Homo sapiens: one gene and its partners. The protein of the gene in region 3 purifies or fractionates together with the protein of the main gene of each other region. This does not show direct contact. Each region holds a gene or a part of one and is shown on either strand. Other genes may lie near its edges. The genes, in order: SCYL3, ATAD1, SYAP1 and TM9SF2.

Region 1 (5,616 bases), on a different chromosome or scaffold from region 3:
ACTTGAGAGTCAGCAATATTTTGTAATGGTAATGTCATTTCTCCCAGGATACTTCATTTAACATCCTATTACAACCAACAGTTTGGAGGATTTTTCTGACTAAACCATAAAGCATGTTAGCATATGTGTGTTTAAACTTGTATCCTCGTCACAGATCTCTTTGCTATTAAAATATTAGATTTCAGAGGCGTGTTCCATAGTATTTGTCTCATAAGCTACTTAGTTGTAATAGAATCTTTAAATGGCAAAGGAGAATGTTTCTTGGTTGAAAATTATATTGATGTAGTCTGTGATTATGACCTCAATATTTAACATTCTCTAATCTGTTCTGCTGAATTCCTTCTCTTTTTGGCATTTAGAAATGATTTTCTGGAAGTTGTGAATTTCTTGAAAAGTTTAACATTGAAGAGTGAAGAGGAGAAAACGGAATTCTTTAAGTAAGTTCAGAAAATTAAGAATTTAAATTGAATAACTTGGATTAAGTCCATATAATCACTTTAGGTATTCTAGAGAAGATGAGTCATATATTTGGTTTATTTCACATTTATTGAACATTTCCTATGTGTCAGGCTTTCTGCTAGGCCCTGGTGGGGTAGATATTTCTGGTGAAAGAAATAGATACCCAGACTGATAATCCTTAAACAGAGAGGTGGGTACAGTAGAGCTTTTGGAAGGAGTCCTGAGAACACACAGGGCAGGAGGAGGTCGTTAGAGAAAAGGTATTCTAGGCAGAGGGGCAACATGAACAAATGCACAAAGACAAGACCTAGTGTGACTTGTGCAGGAACCGCAAACAGTTGAGTCCTGCTGGGGGACAAATTCCAAGACAAGGACAGGTAGGAGGTACACCTTGCATGTGGCAGTGAGGAGTGCTGATGTTATTTGTAAATAGGGGACTTCAGGCATTGAAGCCATCAAAGAGATGGAAGCAGGCTGTGAAACAGATTAATGTCCCTTTAGGTGGATCACTTTGTTCTCTATTGAGTGGGAAGGCTTAACTCATTTAAGATTTGGATTGGTTAGTGACTATGGTAGTCCAGGCAGTAAATATGAAGCCACACATAAGGGCATTAATGTCTCCAATGAAGAAGACACTAAGATAAACATTTAAAAAGATAAAGCTGAGAAGCCTTAGTGATTATCACCAAATGAAATAGAGAATATTGGAGGAGAGGACCTAATATGCAGGGAAAATTATGACTTCAGTGTTGGATATGTTGGTTTGAAGTATCTGTTGGACTTTAGATAGAGATATACATGGACCGTTGAACAGACAGGTCTGAAGCTTCAGAGAAGTCTTAAGCTGATGAGCTAGAGGGAAATATTAGGGTGTTATCAGCCTATAGTTGGTGATATTTTCACAGAGAAAGTGGGTAGCATGAAAAGGACAGTGAGCCCAAATTGTAATCCTGGGGCACCCGACCTTATAAGGGGGCTGGTGGGAAGGAGTGGCTGATGAATGAGAAGCAGGGGTTAGAGGAGACTCAGAGAGCTAGGAAGGCTATGATATTCCCAAAGGAGTAGGGAATTTCACGAAGGTAGGAGGAACGAACAGGTACCTGTTCATTTAGTAGTTAGGAAGACACTGGTAACTTTATCTTAGCAAGAGCTGTTCCAGCAGTGAGAGTGCATTGGGCTGAGAAGTGAACAGAAGGTGAGAAAGACACTGGAGAAAAACTTGGAGAGAAAATATTACTGAAGAAGCAAATGGGGTCAAGGAAGGATTTTGTAAGGGTGGAAGAGACCTGAGCATATTAATAGACGAGGGAAAGGAGCTAGCAGAAGAATGGAGGGAGCAGTTGAAGCTGCAATCAAGTTGGGGAGATGGTTGGTGCATTGTCCTGGAAGAGAGGGGAATGCTGGGGCAGTGGCTGGATGGGGGTGGCCTTAAGTAAGAGGAGGCCCTCGGATCCTTAATAACTAGAAGGGAGGTGGGAATGAGTATCAATGTAAACCTGTTTGCTGATAGCGGTGTAGGGGTTTGAAGGTGATAATGCATGTGACCTGTTTCCTAATAAAGTAGGAGGCAAGGATATCTGCTAAGGGTGATTGTATAATGGAGTAATATTACCATTAATACCTAATATCTGTATTTCTTAACAAAGTGCCTTTATATATGTTGTTTTAATTTATGGGGATAGTGACAAAAGCCTATGTTTTGTTAGTTATGGAAGCTTTCTACATTGTTTAAATTTGAGAAAGTGTCTTTTATTATCTACAAAGCCTGTCTTCTTAGGGTAAAAAGGAGGGCACTTTGACTATTAGTAAGGGGATAATTTGGTGGAAACATTTCCTGGTGTGAATTGGAGGTGTGCTGACTAGCTGGCTTTGCTCACACTTTCTGTATTTTTTTTTTTTTTTTTGAGACAGAATCTCACCCTGTCACCCAGGCTGGAGTGCAGTGACATGATCTCAGCTCACTGCAACCTCTGCCTCCCAGCTTCAAGCGATTGAACCTCAGCCTCCCATGCCTCAGCCCCGAGTAGCTGGGATTACAGGCGTCTGCCACCACGCCCGGCTAATTTTTGTACTTTTAGTAGAGATGGGGTTTCACCATGTTGGCCAAGCTGGTCTCAAACTCCTGACCTCAAGTGATCTGCCCGCCGCGGCCGCCCAAAGTGCTGGGATTACAGGTGTGAGCCACTGCACCCAGCCACGCATTTTTCTTAAGTACTTGGGGACCAATCTGTTCACCTTCTCTATCTCCATTTCAAATGCATCACTTTGATAGAAGTGAGAGAGAGGATGTGTGTAGGCTAAACTGTACAAGTAAGCTGATACAGTGTCATGACCAGTTTCCTGGGCTTTCCCTTTTTGTCCTCAGATTTCTGCTGGACAGAGTCAGCTGCTTGTCAGAGGAATTGATAGCTTCAAGGTTGGTGCCTCTTCTGCTTAATCAGTTGGTGTTTGCAGAGCCAGTGGCTGTTAAGAGTTTTCTTCCTTATCTGCTTGGCCCCAAAAAAGGTGAATGCTTTTTCAAAGTGTTATTGCTAGTTAAGAAGTTTGGTGATTATTAGTCCATATTTGAGCAGGATGAGATTACTGTGTGGTGTAGTTAATGTTTGGTTCTAAAAACGGAGAACAATTGTTGGCCCCTGATGTGATAACTTTAATTCAAACCTGGGTACCAGAGTTCACAGGATAAATGAAGCATCTTCCTAGAGAGTCCAATTTACTATAGTAAGTGTTATATCTGACTAGAATCTGAAATATACATTTGAAGTTTTAAGGTAAGGCATGCATCTTCAAAGAACTTTTACATTTATCATGAATCATTTAGGCCTGTGCCTCCTACCTTACCAAGAGCAACCCATTTATTTTCTATTTTCAGTGAAAAGCACTGAGATCATTTTACTTCCTGGGGCTTCAAGTTTTTTTTACGAATGTGAAATGAGGTTATTGCTTTGGAATTTTACAATTTTATAGCACTAGAGATGGTAACAACAGATGAGAGAATATAGTATTAATATGACACTAGAATTTTAAGTTACGTAGAATCCTGCTTTCAGAATTTATTTTCTTAAAGGGATCTCAGTCCAACAAAGCATTGTTACAGTTTAGAATTTCCTTATATCTCTACTTTGATACCATTCTCTTTAGCCATGAATTTTTCTTTATAGCTCTTACATCCTATTCCTCAGTAGGTCTTACATAGGGGTGTGCCTCTGAATCACCTATGTTGCTTTTTGAAAATTTGCCTCTTTGCTTGATCCATTGGTTCTAGAACAGAGAGCCAGGACATAGGTATACATATTTTTTAAAAGTTCCCAAATAATTCTCAATACATACCTGCCTGATAACCACTACCATAAATACTGGAAAAAGAGGAGTATCCAGCATCAAAGTCCCACTGTAGCATTTAACACCTGGTTTTGCAAATAAAACTACAACAATATCAGTATGTCACAAATCTAGTGTATGAAATTCCTCACTGATTAAACATAAATTTATAAAAAGTTACTCAGAATTCTGTTAAAATACAAGCTTTGTTGTACACTATGATCTCTAGTATTTCAAAAACTCTACAAGGTAAGTGTACTTAACATAATTAAGCGTTAAGTAATTTTCGGTCAAGAAAAGAACTTTGCTTTGGTTTGGAGCATTAGAATTTAGAAGAATACTGGCCGGGCGCGGTGGCTCACGCCTGTAATCCCAGCACTTTGGGACACCGAGGCAGGTGGATCACTAGGTCAGAAGTTTGAGACCAGCCTGGCCAACATGGTGAAACCCCATCTCTACTAAAAATACAAAAATTAGCCGGGCATGGTGGCGGGTGCCTGTAATCCCAGCTACTCGGGAGGCTGAGGCAGGAGAATTGCTTGAACCTGGGAGGAGGAGGTTGCAGTGAGCCGAGATCGCGCCACTGCACTCCAGCATGGGTGACAGAGTGAGACTCCATCTCAAAAAGAAAAAAAGAATTTAGAAGAGTACTTAGAATATGTGTAGTTTTGGGTTCAGTGTATGAATTATGCTTAATACTTTTCACTGAAATGAAAATTTGTTTTTTCATCTGTAACCTTTGATTTTTCGGGTAGATCATGCGCAGGGAGAAACTCCTTGCTTGCTCTCACCAGCCCTGTTCCAGTCACGGGTGATCCCCGTGCTTCTCCAGTTGTTTGAAGTTCATGAAGAGCATGTGCGGATGGTGCTGCTGTCTCACATCGAGGCCTACGTGGAGCACTTCACTCAGGAGCAGCTGAAGAAAGTCATCTTGCCACAGGTCAGAGGCCAAGTTTGCAGTGGGGTAGTCACAGAACCTGAGGGAAGAGTGCTGAAAGAAAGAGTTTTGGAGGTATTCAGATAATAGCTTAGAAAGCCTTCAGGCAGCAGTCTGTGGAATACAAAGTGCTGAAATTAAAATTGCATTTCCATTCCATTCACACAGGCAAATTGATTAAACTGACATATTTGGTCTTAACCTGGGAGAAACTATAATTGTTTGTTAATTTTGGGAGGGTAAATGAATAACAATAATGTATGGAGCACTTTGTGAACATAACATATAATTATCCATAATTATTATAAAGTAATTAAATTAGAACAGAGAGGAGCATGAGATGATTCTTATCAGTGGCTTTCAGCCTGTTGTTATCAGCCACTAGGGAACCTTATTATGATTTGCCCACCAAAGGGTTTTGTTAGTGAAACTAATGAAAGGTTTGTATTAGTTGCTTAGGCTGCCATAACAAATTATCACAAATTATAATGGCTTAAAGCAATACAAATTTATTTTTAGTTCTGGAGGCCAGAAGTCTAAAACCAGGGTGTCAACAGGACCCTGCTTCCTCTGAAGGCTGTAGGATGTGAAAGGGACTCCTCTTTACAAGCTTCTCGTAGCTCCCAGCAATCCTTGGTATTTCTTGGCTTGTGGCTGTATCATTCCAGTCTCTGCTTCTGTTGTCACGTGGCCTTCTTACCTCCTTGTCTGTCTTTACATGGCCTCTTAGAAAGACACCAGTCATTGAATTTATGGCCTACCCTAACCCAGTATGACCTCATCTAAAGGTCACATTCTGCATGGACATGAATTTTGGAGGGACACTATTCAACCTAGTATGAGGTTTTAAAAAAATTGTTTTAAAAGACTACAATCACATGGTGTCTTTCAAATAATTT
Region 2 (5,616 bases), on a different chromosome or scaffold from region 3:
CCAAAGAAGCAGGCTGTCGATTTATTAACCTTCAGCCTTCGACACTGACCGATAAGTGGTATGGAGAATCTCAGAAATTGGCTGCTGCTGTCTTCTCCCTTGCCATAAAGCTACAACCATCCATCATCTTTATAGATGAAATAGGTATGCTATGTTTTCTATATGAGTATTTTTAAAGGCCATTTTTAGAGATATTTAGATAACCAGATTTAGTTTTTAACATTTATTAGGCCATGTTAATAAAACAAAGAACATAACCAACATCATAATATGCTATGTATAATTTCTGTGTTGTAGAATGAACCATAGACTATATACTCCCCTACTTGATAGATAGGTTTTTCTGTCTTTTCTCTGTTACAAACAGTATGCAGTAGATATCCATGTACATGTTTTCTCATGTATATATGTTTGCCCGGGAAAGATACCTAGAAGTTGAATCATTTGGTTGTGTGATATATCTATCTTCAACCTCACTAGGATTACCAGTTCTTTAGTTATTATACCTATTTATGTTTTCCTGCTTGGTAGTAAACTTGGGCATCTTTTAGCATGTTGATTAGCCATTTGGGTTTTCTTATTTGTGAATTGTCAATATTTCTTTGGAGTTATTTGTAGTTTTCTTTTGTTGATGTTTATTATGATTACACCTATTTTCTAGTCTATCTTTTTTCTGATAGTTTTTTTTTTACAGTTTATTATTTGGCTATAGTCAGTATTTTTCCTTTGTGGTTTATACGTTTTGTATCTGGTTTACAAATACCTTCACTATCCCCATAAATGTTCTCTTTTTAAAAATTATATATAACATGAGATAGGAATCTAATTTCATTCTTTTCCAAAAAGACAGCAAACTAGACTATCCTTTGCTGTATGTCATGACTTTTATATTAATGGACTCTTGCTATATTATGGATCAATATTTTTGTTCTGTTCCTGGTACGATGTATATATAAATATATATAGTTATACTAATACAGTATTATTAGTATTGGATATATATTTATATAGCTTTATTACTGTAGTTTTGAATTATATTTTATTATTGTTAAATTTAGTATGATAGGCTATGTAAATATGTAGAGAGAAAAATAGATACAAATATGTAGTATAGCTTTGTTTTGGTTACTTGTTTGCTTTATGTATCTTTTCTCATCAATTTACTCCAGTTATTTTGGTGTTTTGGTGTGCATCTTGAACAGAGGAATATATAGCTAGTTTATTTTGTTTTTGTTTTTTTTTAAGACAGCATCTCACTCTGTTACCCAGGCTGGAATGCAGTGGCGTGATCATGGCTCACTGCAGCCTCAACCTCCCCAGGCTCAAGTGAACCTTCCACCTCAGCCTCCTGAGTAGCTGGGACCACAGGTGTGTGCTACCACACACCACTAATTTTTGTAGAGTCAGGGTTTCTCCATGTTGCCCAGGATGGTCTAAAACTCTTGGGGCCAAGCAATCTGCCCTGCCTTGGCCTCCCAAAGCATTGCGATTACAGGTGTGTCCACCACACCTGGCCTATTAGCTATATTGTCTAAAAATTTTAATCTAAGCTTCTCTTTAACTGGGAAGTGTGATTAGTTTGATTTTGTTATGATAGCTGAGATAATTCAGATTTCTTTTTTTTTTTTTCACGCTCTGTCATGGCTGGATTGCAGTGGCACAACCATGACTCACTGCAACCTTGACCTCCCCGGCTCAAGCGATCCTCCTGCCTCAACCTTTCAAGTAGCTGAGAATACAGGCGTGTACCACCATGCCCTGCTAATGTTTTAATTTTTTTGTAGAGACGAAGTCTCACTATGTTGCCTAGGTTGGTCCCCAACTCCTGGGGTCCAATGATCCTCCTGCCTCAGCCTCCTAAAGTGCTGGGATTATAACGCCTAGCTGATTTACTTCTGCTATATTATTTTTTGCTTTTAATTTACCAGTCTAGTAGACTTTTTTGCTTTATTCCCTTTTTCTTGCTACAGGTTTAGAAGTTATACGTTCTTTTACTTTAGTGAAACGTTTAGAATATCAACTTAAAAGTCAAGGGTAATCTCTACCTTCCTTCCAAATAATTCACAGAGAACTTAGAACTCTTAGGTAATAATAATATCTCATCTCTTACATGTTATTGTTAAACATTTTATTTTTCTTCTACCTTCGATATTAATTGCTATTTTATACTGGCATTGCTTGTTTAGTGCCACGTTTGCTAGGTTTTTTGCTCACCATTGCTTGTTTGATCTTGTCTTTTCTGGATTTAACTTTGTTTTTACTGAAGTCTTTCAAAGTTCTTTCAGCAAAGGTTGTACAAAGAGTAGATTCTTCCTGTGTGTGAACATGTGTTAATTCTACTTTCTCTCTTAAATGATACAGAATCACATTCAGCGTCTTAAAGCTACAATTCCACTGCATTCTAATCTTTTTAATCTTGTTGCTTTTGAGAATTCTCCTTATTGCCCTATATTTGTAAGTAATCTATCCTTTCTCTCTAGTTGCTGTTAGATTTTCATGTCATTCTGCTATTTAAGTATGGTTTTTTTCTAGGTCTGCATTTATTTTCATTTAGCCTGCTAAGCCACTTATCTGAGGATGTGTGACTTTCATTAATTCTGGAGGATTTCTCAGCCATTGTATATATTTGCATGTTGCAATGTTCCCATTAAAAAAAAAAACAATTCTCAGGCCAGGTGTGGTGGCTCACATCTGTAATCCCAGCACTTGGAGAGGCCAAGGCAGGAGGTTTCCTTGAGTCCAATAATTTGAGACCAGCCTGGACAACATGTAAGACCCCATATCTACAAAAAAAAATACAAAAATTAGCCGGGTGTGGTAACGCATGCCTCTAGTCCCAGCTACTTGGGAGGCTGAGGTGAGAGGATCACTTGAGCCCAGGAGATTGAGGATATTCAGTGAGCATAGGTCATGCCACTGCACTGCAGCCTGGGCAACAGAGCAAGACCCCATCTTCAAAAAAAAAATTCTTCATCTCTTCCATTTTGAGTCATTTCTACAGTTTGTCATTTAGTTCTGTACAGTATTTCATCAATTCTAAGACATACTGTTTTGTTTTTTACATTTTAACATCTTCGAAATTAGGATAGCATGTTACAATTGAGTTGGCAGCATTTTAAGTTTCTTGTTGGTACACAAAATAATGGTACAACTTAAAAATAATTCAATTTTTGAGTAGATTATAAAGGCAATTCTTTCCTTGGCTATATTTAATCTTTCAACTATTGGGTTTGTTTTTTGTTGATTATATTTGAACTTTAGAAGTTCTGTTTGGTTCTTTATAAAATGTTTCCCTTTTTTTACTGTAGCTTGTTATTTTAGAATTTCAATCCCTTTTATATCTTTAGAATTTTAAACATACTATTTTTGTGTAGTTTTTGAATTGCTCTTTTCTGAAATTCTAATTTTACTTTATGTTGACTTTTTTTTAATAGTGGTTTGTTTCCTTGTGTCATTTGTAACATTAGATGGCTTTAGGCTTGCTTTTATATGAGAATTCTTTTTTGCCTAAGAAGATCCAGAGTACTTTTTCTGTCCTCAGCTTAGAACTTCAGGGGTCTGATCGTTCAAAACCAATTTTAGATAATTTCTCAGTTTGTGTGTTCCCAGACTGAATGGTGGTACAAATTTAGACTTCATACCTGAAAGAGACTCCCCATGGTCCTAGTTTTTTGTGTAAGGAGGACATTTTTACCCCTCAGAGCCCAGGCAAAGATGGACAAGTTTCCTTGTACAGTGACGAGCAAAATTTTTTTTCTTGTCTACACTTTCTGTGAGTGTTAATCCTTCCAAGCATCTTGGCTTCAGCCTGTATGTAGATGTTAACAACAAAGCAGAACCTTTTGATGCTGTATATGTCTATATGCATACCTGCTGTGTATACAAACACAACAGACGGTAGCATAATCACATCAAGGTTTTCCAACTCTTATGTTCAGTTCCACTTTTTTCTGAACTCTGGGATTTTTTTTCTTTGTTTCTTGCAACCTCATATCTTCATTAACCTTTTCTAAAATACATTAATAGTCTTTATTTTTAATAATGGTTTTAAGTTTGCAGAATTGAGCAGAAATCATATAGAGAGTTCCCATATGCCCCCCAGATATATAGTTTCTCCTAGTATTAATACTAGCATGAGACATTTAATAATGAACCAGTATTGATACATTGTTATTAACCAAAGTCCATAGTTTAAGGTTCATTCTTTGTGTTGCACAGTTCTTTGGGCTTTGACAAAGCATAATGTTTTTTATTTATCATTACAGTCTCATACACAATAGTATCAAATATTTGTCCTTCCCTTTTCCTCCCAAACTGCTAGCATCCGCTGATCTTTTTTTACTGTCTCTATAGTTTTACCTTTTCTGTAATGTTACAGTTGGAGTCATACATTATGTAATCTTTTCAGACTGGCTTCTTTCCCTTAGCAATATGCATTTAAGTTTCCTCCACATCTTTTCATGATTTGATAGCTTATTTTTATTGCTAAATAATATTCTATTATGTAGATGTACCACAGTTAGTTTTTCCATTCGTCTATTAAAATGACACCTTGTTTTGGGCAATTAGGAGTAATGCTGCTGACAGCATCATGTGTAGGTTTTCCTGTGGACACAGGTTGCATCTCAACTGGGTGAAATACCTAAGAGTACCACAGCTTGATCACATGGTAAAACAGTGTTTAGTTTTGTAAGACACTAGCAAACTGTCTTCCAAAGTGGCTGTACCATTTTGCATTTCCACCAGCAATAACTGAGGTTCCTATTGGTATACATCTTCTCTAGCATTTGGTTTTATTAATTTTGGGGATTTTTAGCTATTGTAATAGATATATAGGTATCTAATAGTTTCCCATTTTTAAAATTTGCATTTTCGTAATGACATGATGTGGAACATTGTTTCATGTGCTTATTTGTCATCTGTGTATCTTTGTTGAGGTGTCTGTTCAAATGTTTTTCCCATTTTGAAACAATTGTAATATTTTTTATTGTTTGATTTTTTAATTTTTTATTGATACATAATAATTGTACATATGTATGAGGCACCTATGCAATGAGCAAATCAGGCTAATTGGAATATCCATCACCTCAAAGATTTATCATTTATTTGTGTTGGGAACAACAATTAGGTTATTATCTTATTGTTGAACTTTAAGAGTTCTTTTTATATTTTGGGTACAAGTCCTTTACCAGGTATGTGTTTGCAAATATTTTTTGCCAGTCTGTGGCTTGTCATTTCATTTCCTTAGCAGTATCTTTCACATAGCACGAATTTTATTTTATTTATTTTGTTTTATTTTATTTTATATATTTTTTGAGACAGAGTTTCACTCTTGTTGCCCAGGCTGGAGTGCAGTGGCACGACCTCAGCTCTCTGCAACCTCTGTCTCCTGGATTCAAGTGATTCTCCTGCCTCAGCCTCCCAAGTAGCTGGGATTATAGGCATTCGCCACCATGCCCAGCCAATTTTGTATTTTTAGTAGAGATGAGGTTTCACCATGTTGGTCAGGCTGGTCTCTCAAACTCCTGACCTCAAGTGATCCACCCACCTCGGCCTCCCAAAGTGCCACCATGCCCAGCCAGGAATTTTAAGTCCAACTTACACATTTATTTTTGA
Region 3 (5,616 bases):
TGAGTAGCTGGGACTACAGGCACACGCTGCCACACCTGGCTAATTTTTTTTTTTTTTGTATTTTTAATGGAGACAGTGTTTCACCATGTTGGTCAGGCTGGTCTCAAACTCCTGATCTCAAGTGATTCACCCACCTTGGCCTCAAAGTGGTGGGATTACAGGCGTGAGCCACCGTGCCTGGCCCCTCTGAATATTTTCTAATAACTGCATTTTTCATATGGATGTGTACTTTGGAGCTAATGCTGCCATCTTTCTGCTCACCAGATTCTCTTTTGATATTTACGGAAGCTGAGGTTAGATGGAAGTACCCACAAACACACACACATTGTGAATTTAAAGCTTCAGAATAAATGAGAATTCTTTCTTTTCTGAAATTTATGTGATTTTAGAAAGTCGTAAAGGTTCTAGTTCATATACAAACTGTGAGAGACAAGAGAGATGATCAGATATTTTTTATTTCTACATATTGATCCTAAGAAGTATATTGTCTTTAAGAAGACCCATTTATGTTTTGAAAACTGGAATTAAACATCTGTGAGCCTGACTCCCAGAGTAGATTCATTTCTTAAGTCTTTTGAAATCTACATAAAATATCAGCCGGGTGCGGTGGCTCACGCCTATAATCCCAGCAGCTTTGGGAGGCCAAGGCAGGCAGATCACGAGGTCAGGAGATCGAGACCAGCCTGACCAACGTGGTGAAACCCTGTCCCTACTAAAAATACAAAAATTAGCTGGGCGTGGTGGTGCGCGCCTATAATCCCAGCTACTCAAGAGGCTGAGGCGGGAGAATCGCTTGAACCCGGGAGGCGGAGGTTGCAGTGAGCCGAGATCGCGCCACTGCACTCCAGTGTAGGTGACAAAGTGAGACTGCATCTCACAAAAAAAAAAAAAAAAATCTCCTGGGAGCCCCATTTGTTCTGCATATATTTGTTGAGTGCCTACCTTCAAGACTGGACACTAAATACTTCCTGGTTCCTGGTGACCTATTTATACATTCAGGCAACTCACCAGTTAGTGGTGGACACCCAGGCCTGCATTCCACTCCCTCACTCAAAACCAAACCTCCTGGTCTCCTGATTCTTGGCCCTCCCTCCTGATAAATTTACAACCTCCGATTGTCACTGTCTCCAAAGGAAGGAACAATTTATAGGAGAACTCACTTAAGAGCTCCTCCCTACCTCCCTCAAGGCCCCATGCCGTTAAGTTGGTTAGTTGGTTTTTGTTAAAGTCAACCAAATTAAAGCTTTGCCTCTACTCTTTCTGAAAAAAATAAATAAATAAAAAGAAAATCTGTACTTCTGAGAATGTTAAATATCTGAATCAGTCACACAGTTTACATCAGTGGGAGGATGGCCAAAGATGAGCTTTGTGATCTTTAGCTTTTTCTAAACCGCCCCTAAAACTATTCCATGCCTAGGAATGGGGAAAGGGCCACCTCCTCCTCCTTTGAAAAGTGCTATTAGTATTGCAGTGGACCTGTGTTAGACTGTCCTCCTTTTCTTCTGTAGGGAAAGTATATTTCAAGTTCCAGCTGCCTAACTTGCAAACTAAGAGGACTCCTAAAGTTAGAGTGTACAGAGGTGACTATGTACCTGCTTTGATGTGGGAGTAAAATATCTAATTGAGTTCTGATAACACACCCAGGTTTACAATGCACAGTCAATAGCTTGGATCCTAGGGCTTATGAACAATACTTTTTAAAATTGGGGATCTCGATTTGAAGAAGAAACTTAGGGACATTGCAGAAAATCTGAAAGGTCTTTTGCAGAAAAGAAGTCGTAGATGTTCCTTATGAGGATAGACCTGAGGCTGTGGGGTAGAAATGACTAGAGAAGTGAGAAGAATTTTCTGATTAGAGTTGAGTAACAGTAATTACTGGCTGCCCTTCTAAGTCCTGTGCTCCCTACCCCTGGAAGTGGGGCTACCTGGATAGGAAGGTCCATTCCCACACTAAGATGCTGAAATTCTAAAATTGTATGAAATATAGTATCTTTGAAAAATTAACCAACTACTTTATAAGAATATTAATTTCCTAAGACTTTGCCACTGTATGCTTATTCTCTTCCTATTCTTGCGGCAGGCCTTAAACTCTACCTTGCTCTGTGTTTACTTTAACAAATTTATGTTTTTTCTGACCTTTGAAGCTCTTCCTACTTTACTTTATTCTTACCATTCCTTTCAGTTCTTCAAGCCCTTGTCAACTTGCTCAACTGACCTGAGGCAGCGTGGGATTGGAGCATGAGCTTGGGATTTAGAGGCAGATAGCCTGTGTTTGAGTTCCCTACACTACTTACTGTCTTTATTGTTATATCATTTGCAAATTACAGAAAGTCCAGTGATCAGAGGCTTAATGAAAGAAACTTTATTTTTGTGTCAGGGAGTCCCCAAGAACCATCCCCAGGTTTGATGATTGGCTAGGAAGACTTATGGGACTCAGCATATAGTTGTATTCATGGCCGTGATGTATTGCAATGAAAGAGTACAAGAATAAAATCAGGAAAGGAAAAAGGCACATGGGGTGGAAGTCCAGGGGTAAGCAGGCACAGTAGAGTCACACAGGACGTGCTTAATTCCTCTAGCAAGGAGTTGTGACAACACGTGTGAGATGCTGTCTTCCAGGGAAGCTCATTAGAGACTCAGTGCCCAGGACTTTTACTGGGGACTGGTCGTATAGGTATCCTCTGCCTACCACATATCCAAATTCCAGACCCCACAAGGAAAGCGGGAGTTCAGCATAAACCACAATGAGGCATTCTTAGCAGTTTAAGAAATGGTGGGAGCCCTCCCGAAATCTAAGTTCCCGGACACCCAGCCAGTGGCCAACCTTGAAAGCAAGCCTTTCCAAGGACAGCAGTCTCAGGCCTGCCATGTTAATGCTTTTCTGCAGAGTCTCCAAGAAATGTGGGGATGGGAGGGAGGTCCCAGGGTCAGTTCCATGGCTCAACGATATGATCAGGGAACCAATCTCTTCCACGCTTCCTCTCCTTCATCCATAGTGAGTTGGTTTCCATCCTCAGGCTGATCACTTCAGGCTCACAAGACAGCAACTGCAGTAGAAAGGGAGGACGAGGACTCTCCCCATAGCTCCCTTTTTATTAAGAAAGAAAATGTTTCTGGATGCCGACTTGCAGGTGTCCCCTTAAATTTCTTGGGGTGGAGCTGTCACATGGCTTTTCTAAGCTTCACGGGACTCTCAGCAAGTATGTGGCAGAGATCCTGACAGAGGTAGTGCCATTACCTTCTTTGGTGTGGACTTGTCAAGATTCATTCTCTGGGGCTGGCCACATGGGCACGCATCAAAATTGGGGTGGTTTTAACAAGGCAGAAGAGATGGGCTACTGGCTGGGCAGCCAGCAAGATCTGCCCCTATCACATAGGACAAATCATTTTTCCTCTGTGAGCCTCAGCTTCCCTTTTTTTGAACTGGGCAGATTATTCCTTCTCCTTGTCCCAGGAAGGTTATGAGAATAAAACATGGCATAATTAAAATGAAGGTAAAATAACTACTTTAAATGTTAGCTGTCGGCCCCCACCTTCCAGCAGGTCGCTAAGTCGTATTCAGATACATTTGAATTTGACTTCCTTTTCTTTGGCGCTACTTCGTTTCAGACCCTCACTTTATGGACTGAAGTGGACATTGTACTCCTGTTACTTCCTGTTAACTCCTATCTTAGTTTCAGTTTTTTCCTAGACAGTTCATAAAAACTGTCTTTGGCCAGGTGCGGTGGCTTACAGTTGTCATCCCAAAACTTTGGGAGGCCAAGGCGGGTGGGTTGCTTGAGCCCAGGAGTTTGAGACCAGCCTGGACAACATAGTGAGACTCCATCTCTATAAAAAATAAAAATCAAAATAAAAACTGTCTTCAACGTGGTGTCAGCTGATCTCTTTGCAAAATTAATAAATCACTTCTTGTCTTTATGGACTTCTTCCCTGAAAATCTCTTGTCATGCTCTCCATCTCACTCCCAGGCCACTCTAATAACTCTCTGGAGACAGTTCTCCCTCCATGCTGCCACATCTGCTTAATGAATAATCTTGTTCCTCTTTTTGTCTTTGATTCTCTATTTATTTGTTTTGCTTTAGAGATGGACGTTCCTGGAGGGCAAGAACTTGTGCTTTCTCAGATATTCAGTGTGTTCAGTAAACTCCATCCATGGAGTCATTAAAATCTAAGGAATGCAATGATTATGCTAAAATACCAGTTTTTAAATGACAGTTCTCCCTTGGAATAAAAATCATTGTTTGAATTCAAAATATGTTTCTGAGGAAGGGATAAAAGGAATTTATTTCCAAAAGAACCCTCTTCTTTTGGAACTTTAGATTTGTTTCTCTGACTGCAAAGCATGGTTTTGTTCCTGGACCAAACTGAGGGTCAGGCTGCTATTTCTCGTGGCCCAATAACAAGATGCAGGTCAACTGGGAAGGAAGAGAGTTTTTATTTCTGTAAGTGGCTCCAGGGAGAAGGCCTGGAAATTATCACCAGACCAACGCAAAATTAGAAAGTTTTCCAGAGCTTATATACCTTCTAAGCTATACGTCTACGTGTTAAGTGTGCACTCATCTAAAGACATAAGTGATTAACTTCTTTTAATCTATAACTAAGGTCTGAGTCCTGAAGACCTTCCTCTGGAGCCTCAGTAAATTTACTTAATCTAACTGGGTCCAGGTGCTGAGGTGATTACCCTTATCTTGTCTCCTGCTAAATCATGGAGGTTTGGGGAGTTCCTTCAGACCCCCAATCAACTTGTTTGTGGAGGCCTGGGGAGTCTCTTCAGACCCCCCAGTAAAACTTACTTAATCGTGCTTTAAGGTTCAGGAAAGTCCTAGGCAAAACTCTTGGGCTTTTGTTACATCCCAGCCTTTGTATAAGGTCACTGGCTTTTAATATTTAACTTAACCACTCAGTCAGTACTGAAACAGTTGTGATGGAAGCCTATGTTAGTGAGTCCTGGCCTGCCGCAATCCCCACTGTCAATTTGCGCATGATTTCTATCATGCTTGTATATTTATTTATCATGAGAATCGTAGGGAGATGGGGCATCATAATCTTTCTGGCTACTTTTTGCTTAGAGGGGCTCATCATTATGGGGCACTGAATGCAGCACTGAAGTAGAAGAGGTCAACTTGTTCCCGGTAGCACTCTCTGTTTCAGAGGCTTAGAGGCAGCACCTGCTGAAACATAATAGTATGTAACAGCAACACATATAAATAGGTTACTGCTGTTTTCTTCTGAAGTTTAAGTTGTCTAGTCTTCAGTTCACAGGGCTTTAAGAAAGCACAGCTTAGGTTTCAGTGATTTCCAAATAGGAAAAATGGGGAAAAAGGAAAAGGAAAAGGAAAAATTGAAAACATTATTTTGAAGACCTGTGGCCAGAAAAATTAGAATTTAATCCAAACTGTGGAAAAAAATAAAAACTGAAAAACATCAGGCATAGAATTTAACAACAGGTATACTATAGTTTTTGAAACAAAATTTTTCTCTCTCTAGTTTCCTATTTTTATTAGAAGACAAATCATGGTAGGACCAATTTGCTTTATTGTACTTGGCCAGATTATTTGTATAAAGTGCAGCAAGAAAAATCATTTTCTTTTAAAATAAAATTTTTTTATTTAATAT
Region 4 (5,616 bases), on a different chromosome or scaffold from region 3:
GCTAAATTTCATAACATCTCTGTGATATTTAGATGAGGAAACAGAAGCTCAATAAGATTTAGTAGCTGTCTCAAGTGTACAAAGCTAGTAAGTATTAAAGCCAGAATGCAAACAAGCCCAAGACTGAGTCCAAAAAGCCTAGGCTCTTCGCCACTGCCTTCTACTCTGAGCACTCTTCTTCTTGTTTGCCTTTCCCCTGGGGATCCCTGACCGCTTATCACCCTGGACTTTGACAGTTCCAGAAAACACTCTGTATCTATTATATGTAATTTTCATTTTATTTTATTTTTTAGAAACAGTCTTGCTCTGTCACCCAGGCTAGAGTGCAGTGGTGCAGTCATAACTCATTGCAGCTTTGATGTGTCTGTGTAATTTTTAAGTAGTCAGGTTTTATATTTACTTCTTTCGTTGATATAGTCTAAAATTGAAATTGTATTTTTCAGGGCTTTGGGGAAAGAACCCTGGTAATTATCTAGGAGATCAGTTGCTGGGCATTGCTGATCGGATAACTCAGAGCTCATAAATAAGCATTTGTGAGTCCCAGCATTGCTTTTGAGACTTTTATTGTGCCTGAGTTAAGACTTCCCTTCTTCAGGAAGGCGCCACTGTGGACTGCTCTAATATTAAGGAGTTGAAGCTTCCATAGATTTCCTTTTTTATGGCCTCCATATCTCAAACCCTTTTGTGACTTGTCATTTGCCATGACCCTTGTACAGTCACATCTCTTCACTGAAATTTCTTTCTCCCTTGAAAATCCAGTTGTAAGTGTGGGGTGGGACAGATGTGATGATAGCAGAATAAGGTGGGAATAAAAGCAGAAACGAACTAGGAAATGGGAAAAAGTGTAGTCCTGTGGCATGGCCCGTGTGCCTTGTTAAAACAAAAAAATAGACTAGTTGTGACCATAGCTGGGATCAGGTATGGAACTGGCAGATTAGGACTAGAAATAAAATTGTACATTTAGGAGAGAAATTTAAAAGGAAGACTGTAGAGTTCTAAATAAAACCACTTCTATAAAACATTTCATAGTACAGGATTGTAATCAGTCTTGCTTTCTCTAAGTGACATAGGATTCTGCAACTTCCTTAAAATGTTTCATGTTGTCAAAATTTTGCATGCTTGAAATAACCTAGGTGGGGACAGTTTGAAAGTGGGAATGTGAAGCAAGTAAACCTTGAAGTTCTTTCTAGTCACATCAGTGATAATCTAGAGTCATCTGTCTCTATTTAAGGCAAATTTCTGGGAGGAGATGGACTTAACTCTTTTGGATGGTGAATAAAGATGTTTAGAGTGGGAAAAAAAAGGCAAACAAAACACACACACACACACACACACACACACACACACACACACCCCAGAGATTCAGTAGCTACTCCAAGAACATATAAATAAGTGCTGTCATTTTTTTTTTAATATATGCTGTATTAGGCTGTTCTTGTGTTGCTGTAAAGAAATACCTGAGACTGGGTAATTTATAAAGAAAAGATGTTTAATTGGCCCACAGTTCTGCAGGCTGTACAAGCATGGCACGGACATCGCTCGACTTCTAGTGGGAACCTCAGGAAATTTTTACTCATGGCAGAAGGTGAAGCAGGAGCAGGCATGTCACATGGTAAAAGCAGGAGTGAAAGAGTTTTCTGTTGAGCGAGATGCCACACTTTACAACAAGCAGATCTCACAAGGACTCACTCACCATCATGAGGGCAGCACCAAGGGAGTGGTGCCAACCCATTCATTAGACATCTACCCCCATGATCTAGTCACCTCCCACCAGGCCCTACCTCCAGCATTAGGGATTACAGCTTGACATAAGATTTGAGTGGGGAAAAATACTCAAATCTCATGTCCTTCTTATATTGCAAAATACAATCATGCCTTCCTAATAGTCTCCCAAAATCTTAACTGACTGCAGCATTAATTCAAAAGTCCCAAGCCCAAGTCTCATTTGAGACAAGGAAAGTCCCTTCTACCTATGAGCCTGTAAAATAAAAAAGCAAAAACAAGTTACTTACTTCCAAGACACAAAGGGGCTATAGGCATTGGGTAAATATTCCCAGGCCTTGGGCAGCTCCACCATTGTAGCTTTACAAGGTTCAACCCCCACAGCTGTTCTCACAGGTTGTTCAGTGCCTGTAGCTTTTCCAGGCACAGGGTGTAAGCTGCCAATGAATCTACTATTCTGGAGTCTGGAGGACAATGTCCCCCTTCTCACAGCTCCACTAGGCAGTACCCTGGCGGGGACTCTGAATGGGGCTCCAACACCACATTTCCCCTCCACACTGCCCTACTAAAGGTGCTTTGTGGGGGCTCCATCCCTGCAGCAGGCTTCTACCTGGGCACCCAGGTTTTCTCATCCTCTGAAATCTAGGCAGAGGCTGCCAAGCATTCTTCGCTCTTGAACTCTGTGTGCCTGCAGGCTTAACACCACATGGAAGCCACCAAGACTTACGGCTTGCATTCTGTAAATGGCAGCCCAAGCTGTACCTCAGCCTCTTTGAGCCATGGCTGGAGCTGGAGTGGCCTGAATGCTGGGATCCCAAGGCTGCACAGGGCAGTGGGGCCCTGGGTCTGACCTATAAACCCATTCAGTCCTCCTGGGCCTCTGGGCCTGTGGTGGGAGGGGCTGCTGCAAAGGTCTCTGAAATACCTTTGAAGCCTTTTCCCCGTAGTCTTGGATATTAGCACTTGGCTCCCTTTTAGTTATGCAGATATCTGTAGCATGCGGTTGCCCCACAGCCTGCTTGAATTTCTCTCCAGAAAAAACTTTTTTTTTCTTTGCCACATGGTTAGGCTGCAAATTTTCTGAATGTTTGTGCTCTGCTTCCTGTTTAAATATAAATTCCAGCTTTAAATCATTTATTTGACCCTTCAGCTAAGATAGGCTGTTAGAAGCAGCCAGGTTACCTCTTGAATACTTTGCTGCTTAAAAATTTCTTCTACCATATATACTAGGTTGTCACTCTTTAGTGCAGAGTTCCACAGATCCCTAGGGCATGAATAGAATGCAAGTCAAGCTCTTTGCTGAGACGTAACACGTGTGACCTTTGCACAAGTTCCCAGTAACCTTCTCATTTCCATCTCAGACCTCAGCAGCCTGACTTTACTGTCCATATCACTATCAATGTTTTGGTCACAACCATTTAAACAGTCTCTTAAGAAGTTCCAAACTTTGCCTCATCTTCCTATCTTCTTCTGAGCCCTCCAAACTCTGCCTGTTTCCCAGTTCCAAAACCAGTTCCACATTTTCAGGTATCTTTATAACAACACCCCATCCTCGGCACCAATTTTCTTTGTTAGGCTCTTCTTGCATTGCTATAAAGAAATACCTGAGACTGGGTAATTTATAAAGAAAAGAGGTTTAATTGGCTCACGATTCTGCAGGCTGTACAAGCATGCACCGACATCACTCTGCTTCTGGGGAGGCCTCAGGAAGCTTTTACTCATGGCAGGAGATGAAGCAGGAGCAGGCGTGTCATATGGTTACACAGGAGCAAGAGAGAGTGGGGGCAGGTGCCACACTTTACAAACAACCAGATCTCACAAGAACTCATTATCAGGAGGACAGCACCAAGAGAGATGGTGCTAAACCATTCATTAGAAATTCACCCTCATGATCCAGTCACCTCCCAGCAAGCTCCACCTCCAACACTGGAGAATACAATTTGACATGAGATTTAGACAAGGACATATATTCAAACACATGCGTTGTGTTTCCATCTGGATTATAAATTCTTTGAAGGCAAGTGTTCATGAATTTGTATTATTTTGTCATCCAAAATGTCTAGTATAGGACTTTGTGGGCATTAAATACATGTATTGGCTGATTGAGTTTCTCGTGGTCTTCAGGATCTGTTGTTGTAAATGTTCTTTGGTTTTCAAATATATTGCAAATTCTACTATTTTTTTCCTATTTAATAAATTGGCTTCTCCTGAGATCATCGTTCCTGCTCCTGGAACACTTTTCCACCCTAAATTTTACTTTTTAAATCTTTCTTATTGTTTTTGTTTGCCTTCTGTTGCTTTACAGTGAGACTAAGGTCTACTCTCAACTTCAAAGCCCTTTTTCTGGCTTTTAATTGTGACAGTTTTCAAAATTCAAAAAGTTGAAAGAGTAGTGTAATGATCACCTTTCACTCACCTAGACCACCTAGAATCAACAGTTGTTTACATTTTTTCATACTTGTCTTATTTGTGTGTATTTATGTTTTATAGGGGTGAATGTCATGACATCTGTGGCATACTTTCACATGGTTCAGCTTGAAGCTCTTTATTGAACTATATAAACTCCCCGGCAGTCTCATTTCCTTTCTTCCAATTTTTAACAATTGTTCCACTGACATATTAGGAGGATCTCATTCTTATGACACTTTTGAAATTTCTTTGTCTTGCTGCAAGAGTTGATATTTAGAGTTATTGCAAATGTAGCATATTTACAAATATATTGTAAATGGCTGTATTCTATATTCTGTGTTAAGGTTGACTTTAATTTTAATTGACTTCACATTCCTCAGCATGTGTGAGATGGTAATTCTTGAAATTTCAGATCCTCACAATTTAGAAAAGGAAGAATAAAAGTGCTGTGAAAGCTAAGATGAACTGAATATTCAAGCTGTGTTTGATTACTTTGCTGAACATCAAAAATAGGTCCATAATTTAGTGTTGATATCTATGATAGACTTTCTTACAAAAGTAGTGTGGAAAGGTGTCAGAAGAGACAAGAAGGAAGAAAAGTAGAGGAATAAAAGCATCAGAAATAAAAAGTTACGGTAGCAACAGTTGAGTTTACCTACTTTGTTTCTGCAGTCCAGCTTTTTAACTTGTTTCCTCGTGTTAAAGAAGCAAGGAATCCCTAGTTCATGAGGCTACTATCAGAATTGTGCGTGATAGTTATTATCTTCCTTTTCCCTAGACTAGTGGCCAGGACAAGTATAATGGATAGGCATTAATAAGGTTCAGAAGGCTGACTGTCTTAGTGTCCTTTAAAAACACTGGAATAGCCTAGTTGCACTACTTGGATGGATGGGAGACGAGAGGAAGGAAGAGCCTTTCACAGAAACCCTTATGCTGATAAACCTTTATTCAGACTCAGGAATGGCAGTTTCTTTAAGATAATAGATTACAGCTGCTATGTTTATTATTTGTTATAGTTATTGTGTGCCAATTATGGACCAGCTTCTGCGTGTACTGTTTTCTATTTTATTATGATATCATTCAGTTCCCACATTCAAAATTATTACTTGCCCAAGAGCACTTAATAAAAGTAGACCTAGGATTTGAAGTGAACCCAGCATTCTGATGATACATTCTTTCTAAGGAGAATTGGAAGCTGCTTCATCAGATCAGGAAGGGTTGACAAATAAGGTACATTTAATGGGTATTAGATATTAGATGAAATGCCAAACGTAGATGGATAAAAACTAATAACATGTAGATAAGAAAATGAGGGAGGAAAGGGTGTGAAAACCCCCCGTGGGCTATGTACTGAAATGGAATAAGAGTGATAGTAATTGGTTTAAATGACACCAAGTTTTATAAACAGAAGATTAACATGGTTTCTGGAAAAGAAGTTTTCCTGGTCTCTAGAGTTACTGGAAGATTTGCTGTAGTTTTAGAAGG

What was found.
Region 1: the proteins of SYAP1 (region 3) and SCYL3 purify together in Homo sapiens (affinity purification with mass spectrometry; one large-scale study listed by BioGRID and IntAct). This does not show direct contact.
Region 2: the proteins of SYAP1 (region 3) and ATAD1 purify together in Homo sapiens (affinity purification with mass spectrometry; one large-scale study listed by BioGRID and IntAct). This does not show direct contact.
Region 4: the proteins of SYAP1 (region 3) and TM9SF2 purify together in Homo sapiens (affinity purification with mass spectrometry; one large-scale study listed by BioGRID and IntAct). This does not show direct contact.

The regions. Positions count from the first base shown.
Region 1 is NC_000001.11:169,861,717-169,867,332, reverse strand, and holds part of SCYL3 (protein-associating with the carboxyl-terminal domain of ezrin), read left to right. Parts: intron 1-359; coding exon 360-437; intron 438-2,824; coding exon 2,825-2,964; intron 2,965-4,535; coding exon 4,536-4,720; intron 4,721-5,616. UniProt on the Homo sapiens protein: May play a role in regulating cell adhesion/migration complexes in migrating cells.
Region 2 is NC_000010.11:87,778,998-87,784,613, reverse strand, and holds part of ATAD1 (outer mitochondrial transmembrane helix translocase), read left to right. Parts: coding exon 1-144; intron 145-5,616. UniProt on the Homo sapiens protein: Outer mitochondrial translocase required to remove mislocalized tail-anchored transmembrane proteins on mitochondria.
Region 3 is NC_000023.11:16,721,652-16,727,267, forward strand, and holds part of SYAP1 (synapse-associated protein 1), read left to right. Parts: intron 1-5,616.
Region 4 is NC_000013.11:99,507,092-99,512,707, forward strand, and holds part of TM9SF2 (transmembrane 9 superfamily member 2 precursor), read left to right. Parts: intron 1-5,616. UniProt on the Homo sapiens protein: In the intracellular compartments, may function as a channel or small molecule transporter.